Regions from separate parts of the Homo sapiens genome. Here region 2 is reported to be linked to region 1. Evidence: microRNA targets listed by miRTarBase, many of them from high-throughput screens and not tested one by one. Region 1 holds a microRNA gene; the other region holds the end of a gene's coding sequence.
What was found. Region 1 holds the annotated microRNA hsa-miR-377-3p (AUCACACAAAGGCAACUUUUGU, at 2,586-2,607, opposite strand). A microRNA usually pairs through its seed, bases 2 to 8, with sites in the 3' UTR of a target mRNA and lowers its output. Matches are read on the target gene's strand: a 7mer-m8 pairs with bases 2 to 8, a 7mer-A1 pairs with bases 2 to 7 and ends in A, and an 8mer does both.

Region 1 (4,065 bases):
TCTCTTCACAAGGGTCAGGGCAGCCCTGACCTCAGAACCCAACCTTCCCCAGACTCAGAGAACACCCAGAAGGTGCCTCCTGGAGCGGGCAGCCAGCAAGCATCGGGCCAGACGATGGATGCCACAAGCAGAGTCCAGATTCTGTGCCCACCACCCATTCTGTGAACTTTGGAGTGGGACCGACAGCAGAATCCTTTCCCTGACGTTGGCATGAGCTCAGAGAGCCCTCTGCGCCTTGCTACAAGTGGAGCAAGAGGCCAGCCATGCGAGGCCTGCTGTAAAGAAAGAAAAGATGTCACAGACGACTTCCCTTCAGGAGCCATGGGCACTGACCTGCATCAGAGCCTCCTTCCTGGGGCAGGCATCACCTCCCAAGGTGGTCCCGGAACGCACCGGAGTCAGCAGGAGTGGAACAGATGACATGCACCGTGGGTACAATCGGGCCTGTCCCATGGGCGGCCCTCAGGCACCTGCCCTGGAGAGGGCTCCGGCTGCAGGCCGCCTCCTGAGGGTGCTGTTGCTTCTGGAAATTCTCCAGGTAGGGTTTGATCTGAAAAGAAAGCCATGTGCAATGCTGGTCACCAACAAAGCAGGCCAGCAAACAACGAGCTCTTTCCACAGCCCCAGCAAGGTTTTTGACCTTGGAAACATCAACTCCAGAATGACTTTCAGCCTCTATGACCAAATGACATTCGGCACCAACGAAGGGCACGTCCTTGGGGCCAGCATGGAACCATGTAAGGTATCAACAGCAGAGTCTGAGGAAGGACTGAACCCCAGAATGTTCCTGGATGCCTGTGTGTTCATCAATAGCCTTGGAAGTGTGAAAGGAAAGTTATCTCGGGCCCCTAAAATCACTAAGGAAAACTCAAGCTGGAAGCTGCTCAGGATAAACCTGCCTCTCATTCCATTCAAAGTCATCCCTCTGCTCACTGAGACAGATGCGTATCTGATTTGCCTCCTTTGGAAAGGCTCATGAGAAACGCGAAAGAATGTAATCATTTGTGTATCACCTGTCTGTGACCTGGAAGCTCCCTCCTTCCTGCCTTCGCTTCAAGTTGTCCCACCTTTGCAGACAAAACCAATGTACTTCTTACATGTGCTGAATGATGTCTCATGTCTCCCTAAAATGTATAAAGCCAAGCTGTGCCTTGACCACAGTACTTCCTGAAGCTGTGTTACGGGTGTATCCTCAACCTTGTCAAAATAAACTTTCTAAATTAACTAAGAGCTGTCTCAGATTTTCTGAGTTCACAGAAGCAACTGTCCTGAAAGACCAGACCCCACTGACCGTAGAACTTCTGCTTCCCTCCGGAGTCAGCGTCTCACCCAGAACCCTCCGTGGGGATGGAGGGAGACCAGGTGATGCCTGTCACTTACGTATGAATGCTCTGGGGACAACATGCACCCAGATCCCCGGGAGGACGCCTTACCAGTGTGTCACGCCTGAAGTCAGCACACCTTTCCGGGAAGCTCTCGGGAAGGTTTGGGGCAGCAAGAAAAGATCAACTGCATAAAGGGGGAGACTGTATCCCATTTTTTGACCCTAGGTTCCTACTGACCCCACCAACTCCACTGTAAACACGCACAAATGTAACCACCTTCACAAGAATTGTACCAACACTGATATTCATAGAAACGTGTTTTTCAGAGCCAATGCCATTATACTAATCCAATTCCCTGTTTAGCTTTCCTGACCGCGCTGTTGAGCTGTTTTCATTTCTCTTATTTCCCTTGTTATTTTCCCCAAATCATTTTCATTAGGATCAATTTTTTCCATTTAAAAATCTGCATGAAGATTTGATTCCTCAATGTGTTCTTGTCTACATCAAATATCACTGTTTATCACCGCCGCCACCGTGAATTTCCTTCCATGGCTGCCACGTCGGCAGCTTGCTATTTCCCCAGGTCAAATGTCACAGCTGAAATGTTGTCAAGAAAATTGGATTCCTCTGCCAATTTGTAGTCAACTGAACACATTTAGCACTGTGCCGTTTCAGCTGTTTTTAGTTTTATTTTGTGTTGATTATTTTTATCAGTATTATTTAATACAAATGGGATGAGATACTGATAGCCTCTATTTGTTTCATAACCCAGGAGAAAATTGGGAACAATGTTTGGTTGGGGGATAGAAAGAGAAAGATAGAGACAAGGAAAGGTGCAGAAAGAAGCACAGTGCTTGTGAGCTAGACGGGGGTCTGGGGCTGCAGACTCGTCACAGACCCTGCCAAGTGTGAGCTCTTTGTGTATCCGCGAGGTCAAATACCTTCCGAAAAAAAAATGGTGGAGTCAAAATGTCTTTGGGATCAACACAGCCAAAATGGTGATGTAAAGAGACAGGGTCCAGGGTAAGAGCTAAAGCCGACGCGACACCAACGCCATCCTCCCCGGGCCGCGAGCCCCGCCCCCATCATGAATGAAGCTTGTGTTCTCTGAGCGACATCTGTTCTCATCCACCGCAGAGGACCGCAGAGGGCAGACCACCCACGTCTACCCCGTCCATTCTTGCTCACGGGAGGGGTGTAGATGCCCCTGAGCTTGCCACTGGGTCCCGGAAGCCATCCCAAGCAGGATTTGATACTCAAACAAAAGTTGCCTTTGTGTGATTCAACATAAATAAAGCGAATTCACCAAGGGCAACCTCTGCTCAAGGGTCAAACATCAGCACGGGCAAGAACACACCGAGATGCCTCTTCACCAAAGGCGGCATTGCCTGCGGGACCTCCCTGCTGACTCCAGCTGCAGGCTCGCTGGCTTGCTGGCTCGCTCTCTCCCCTCTTGCTCTCTCTCTCTCTCTACCTCCGAGAAGCCCCCCAGGCAGTGGTCAGAACATGGTTGGTCATGGACCAGCTTCTGTAGCCCTGGAGCAGGCAGTGGGGGCGAGGCTATGCACACACACATCACAGGTCAGCCCGAGCTAGAGTCAGCCCCTGGTCACCTACCCTAGAGGGGCTGGAACACCAAGGTCCACCTCCAGAGCCGGTATCTCCTCTGGAAGTCTCTGAAGCAGGATTTCACACAGAGAAGGGGGCTGCCAATGAACCATGTGACCGTGTTCAGTCCAGCCTACAGGGGTTTGAGGGAGGACCCGACCTGAAGGCTGGCGACTCCTCGTCCAGCGCAGCATCCTCAGAGGGTGGGTGGGGCTGCGTCACAGGGACAGCACAGGCTCAGGTGACTGTACTCCATGCACTCCATTCCAGGAGGCCTCAAAGAGAGTTCAACCAAGAAAACAGGTCACGCTGCCTATTCATTCATTCAGCATCACACCTACTGTGCACATCTGGCGACACAGCACCAGGCAAAACAGACAAGGACTCTGCCCTCAGGGAGCTTCCATTCTAGTGGCGAGAGGACAATGAGTGCAGATGACATAACATTCATATAATGACCATCCTCAGAAACAATGCTTATCCTACAGCCACGTGCCAGACGCTGTCTAGACACTTCACAAAGAGCACGTTTCCACTCCGCTGTTAACCCTGCTTTACAGAGGAAGAGACTGAGGCCCAGAGAGCTGATAGGTGAAGGGATTTTCCAAGGGCACACAGCTGGCAACATAAGGTAGTAATAAATGCTATTAACAATTCTCGTCTTGCAGTAGGAATAACCGAGTCGTGCCATGGAAATGTGTCTTTAAACAACATTAATTCTCACTGCTGAGGAAACCCCCTTCACCCCTTGCTTCCCAGAGGTCACCCAGAAGATAAGGTATTTGAGGGCGTAATGTGGATGTCTTCCATTCAGCCAGGAGTTCCTTTCCCTAAAGTGTGCCACACAGCCAAGATGATTTCACACCTAAAAAGGTTGACTAAATGTGGTTTATTCACTGACGAGTCTTCAAGGATGCGACTAGAAGACCACCATGTCAACTAAAACGTCAGCATCATTTCGGGGAATTCCTCCTAATGATGGCCGGGATATGAGCCAAGTGATGTAAGTCACACAGAGAGCACCTGTCATGCGGAGGTGATCCACTTCCTTACCCTGCGCAGGTGCCGGCTGGGCTTTCCCCTCGTGACGTTTCCCAAGAAGAATTGAGTACCGAAAGGAGATTGGCCATGT
Region 2 (4,065 bases), not on the chromosome of region 1:
GCCTGGGCAACAGAGCGAGACTCTGTCCCCCACCCACCTCCCCGCCAAAAAAAGTATTTTAAAATTTCCCTCCCCCTTCCAGGGGAGGCTAATTACTCTTCAGAGCCAAGATCAGGATACCTCATCTAATATTTGTTTCTTGGAATTTGTGAAGATCTCTGTTAATATTTTTTGTTTGTTTTTTTGAGATGAAGTCTTGCTCTGTCACCTGGGCTGGGGTGTAGAGGCGCGATCTCAGCTCACCGCAACCTCCTTCCTCCTGGGTTCAAGCGATTCTCCTGCCTCAGCCCACTGAGTAGCTGGGATTACAAGCGTGTGCCACCATACCCAGCTAATGTTTTTTATTTTTAGTAGAGACGGGGGGTTTCACCATGTTGGCCAAGCTGGTCTTGAACTCCTGACTTCAGGTAATCCTCCTGCCTCGGCCTCCCAAAGTGCTAAGATTACAGGCGTGAGCCACTGCACCCAGCCGATCTCTGTTAATTTTCACAAATGTTCCATGTGCGTTTGAGAATGTTAGAGTAGGAGGGGATAATAGGGTTTGTTAAATATTTTTGGCCAAGCTTATTAATGATGTTAGTCACATCTGTATTTTTTTGACTACCTGATCTGTTGCTTCTTTTTTTTTTTTTTTTTTTTTTTTTTTGAGACGGAGTCTTGCTCTGTCACCCAGGCTGGAGTACAGTGGTATGGTCTTGGCTCACTGCAACCTCTGCCTCCCAGGTTCAAGGGATTCTCCTGCCTCAGCCTCCCAAGTAGCTGAGAATACAGGCTCCTGCCACCATGCCCGGCTAGTTTTTTGTACTTTTAGTAGAGACGGTGTTTCACCATGTTGGCCAGGATGGTCTCCATCTCCTGACCTCGTGATCTGCCCGCCTCAGCCTCCCAAAGTGCTGGGATTATAGGCGTGAGCCACTGCGCCCGGCCTTGATCTGTTGGTTTCTAAGAGACATAGTCCTATTCTTCCCTGAGCTGGGTCCCTGGTGTCACTAAGATCACCCCTTCTCATTCCTGGAACTTCCCTGAGGTCATAGGGGGCTCTTTCATCCTATCTCTGGCTCCTGTGGGTGGCTTCTATGCCCAAGCAAGAAGTGACTCAGGCAAGGGTATAGATACAAAATGGCTCACTCTCCATCCCCAGGGATGTGATTCTGGCTCAGTGCATGGATCTGCTCATTGAGTGGCCTAGGGGTGGAGCAGAGTGTCCCCAACCTGTTGCTTCCCTCCACGGACTCAGTTCTTCCCCAGGGCACTTCGAGAAGGCAGCACCGTGTGATGCTCAGGGCTGCGGGTGAGATGGGCTGGGGTACGAATCCCAGCTCCACCTCAAACTCATTGTGTGCCCCTCCCTGAGCCTCAGTTTCCTAATATGTAAATGGGGATTTTTTTTTTTTTTTTTTTTTTTTTGGAGATGGGAGTCTCATTCTGTCGCCCAGGCTGGAGTGCAATGGCATGATCTCAGCTCACTGCAACCTCCGCCTCCTGGGTTCAAGTGATTCTCCTGCTCCAGCCTCCTGAGTAGCTGAGATTACAGGCAGGTGCCACCATGCTTGGCTAATTTTTGTGTTTTTAGCAGAGACAGGGTTTTGCCATGTCGGCTAGGCTGGTCTCGAACTCCCGATCTCAGGTGATCCATCTGCCTCGGCCTCCCAACGTGTTGGGATTACAGGCGTGAGCCACCGCGCCTGGCCAAGGGGCTGGTAACTTCTATCTCAGAGTGTCTGGCCCATGGTGAATTCTCAGTCATGGTCACTTATTAGAATGAGAACACGAGGCAGCCCCTACAGGACCAGGGCTTGGGTTCAAATCTTGGCCTGGCCACTTCATCGGTGTTTTGAGTTTTTTTTTTTTTTTTTTTTTTGAGACAGTCTTACTCTGTCACCCAGGTTGGAGTGCAATGGCATGATCTCAGCTCACTGCAACCTCTAACTCCTGGGTTCAAGCGATTCTCCTGCCTCAGCCTCCTGAGTAACTGGGATTACAGGCGCCCGCCACTGCGCCTGGCTAATTTTTGTATTTTTAGTAGAGTTGAGTTTCACCATGTTGGCCAGGCTGGGTTTCACCATGTTGGCCAGGCTGGTCTCAAACTCCTGACCTTGTGATCCACCCGCCTCAGCGGTGTGTGGTCTTGGACAAGCACCACCACCTCTCTGGGCCAACTCCTCCTCTGACTGTTCACACAAGGAAACGAGATCAGCTCTCCAGGACCCCACCGACCTCCACCCCAGGGATGAAACTGGACAGGCAGGGGCGCAACAAAGACTCCACAATGGGCCGGGGTCAGACGATCTTCCTTTAATACAAAGTCGATATATCTACATACACGGGGGTGGGAAAACCACCCGGCTGCTTCCGCTGGAATAAACAGTGTTGAAAGTAACCGCAGACCTGCCCTTGTACAAAGAGGAACAACTCGCTTGCTCAGGGTAGGCGGGTAGAGGGGGGCCTGTCCTTCTGGTTTTGCTCCCAAACTGCCCCACAGTCCCAGGGGGAAAGGGTCCCTGATGTGGGGCAGCACAGCCATACAGCCACTGTCCCCGAAGAAGTAGGATCCTCTCTGTCTCCTTGGGGGCGGGAGACGGGGAGACAGCTCAGGCTCTCAGAGGAGGACCACTGTCATCTCTCTCCTCTTACAGCAGCGTCCCCCTCAACCGCACCCAACGCCACTGGGTCCGAGCTCCCCCATGACCTTACCCTCAGAACTGTATTTGATATGTCTGAAAATTTAATTTATAAAAATGAAACAAAAAGGGGGAAAAAAAAAGCCAAGAAAGAAAAAAGGACATCCCATTCTTCTGTGAGCAAAGCACACTTTCTGATGGTAGGAAAAATTAAAAAAAAAAAAAAAAAAAAAAAAGCCAAGGTACAGCCATGGGCCTGGCGTGCGCGTTTGCGAACGTAACTATCACACAAGGACGCTTTCTACAGTGAAAAAATAGACTGTCTTTGAACAGAATATGAATAAGCCAAAGTTAGTTCTCTTTGAAAGTCATTGACTGGCGAGTCTTTTGTTTGTTTCTCTTAAAAAAAAAAATGGAAAAAAAAATACACTATTTAAAAAAAATGAAATGTCACGGGATACAGTTACACTGAGAGTTTTAAAAGAAAGCTGGATTCTGGTCCCAGCCCAGTGTCCCCAGGCTGCAGAGCGGGGAGGAGCCCCCCGGGTCCCCCTACCACCGCTGGGGGAGGACGAGGGGTCCGTCTATGGTCTGTGCCCCACCCTCCTCTGGTTCTGGGGAGCACTCCTATTTGCTCACCATCCCCCCACCCCCCACCCCGGAATCTGGTTTTGGAATTGGAAGGAAAGGAGGAATGTGCCAAGTATTTGAAGGCGGCGGCCGGTGCCAGGGAGGTCGCTGGGGCGGCCGGGGCCGGTGGGGGGGCTCGAGGGGCTGCGTCGTCCTCGGAAATGGTGCAGAAACACAGCTGCTGCCGCTGCCACCTCCTGCCCTGCCCACTGGGGGTCCAGGCCTCAGGAGGTCCGCCCGGGAGGGGCAGAGGCATCCGGGGCCAGTGGTGTCGGGCCTGGGGGGAACCATGGCTTTAGGTTGCATAGTGGTCAAAGCTTCCGAGGTACTCCAGTGCCGCCTGGTAACAGAACTGGTACTCATCCTGGGGGAGCAGAGGTGACCTGTTAGTACCTCCGCTGCTCTAACGCCTCCCAGGGCTCCCTATCGCCCTCAGGAGCAGGCCAAGCTCCTCAGCCTTGTGCGTGTCTCTTGCAGAAGGTCTCTTTGGCCCCCACGGCCCTCCCACAATGAAGTGAGCTATGCCACACCTCTCTGCCTAACACAGCCAGGCTCTTCACCCGGAACGCCCTCTCCTCCCGTCTGCCTGGAGGCCCTATTCATCTTTTCTTTTTTATTTATTTTGAGACGGAGTCTCGCTGTGTTGCCCAGGCTGGAGTGCAGTGGCGCCATCTTGGCTCCCTGCAACCTCTGTCTCCTGGGTTCAAGTGATTCTCCTGCCTGAGCCTCCCAAGTAGCTGGGATGACAGGCGTGTACCACCATGCCCAGCTGATTTTTGTATTTTTAGTAGAGACAGGGTTTCGCCATGTTGGC

Region 2: miRTarBase lists PTPRS as a target of hsa-miR-377-3p. Seed matches in the 3' UTR shown: 7mer-m8 at 2,906-2,912.

Annotation. Positions count from the first base shown.
Region 1 is chr14:101,060,636-101,064,700 of GRCh38, reverse strand. MIR377 (microRNA 377) reads right to left here and starts at 2,651; the gene lies at 2,583-2,651. MIR496 (microRNA 496) reads right to left here; the gene lies at 4,027-4,065. MIR541 (microRNA 541) reads right to left here and starts at 206; the gene lies at 123-206.
Region 2 is chr19:5,203,228-5,207,292 of GRCh38, forward strand. PTPRS (protein tyrosine phosphatase receptor type S) reads right to left here. Exons shown (of 38, transcript NM_002850.4): 38 at 2,281-3,615. The coding sequence ends at 3,547. Among named protein-coding and RNA genes, the nearest start is that of PTPRS-AS1, 28 kb to the left of the region's middle.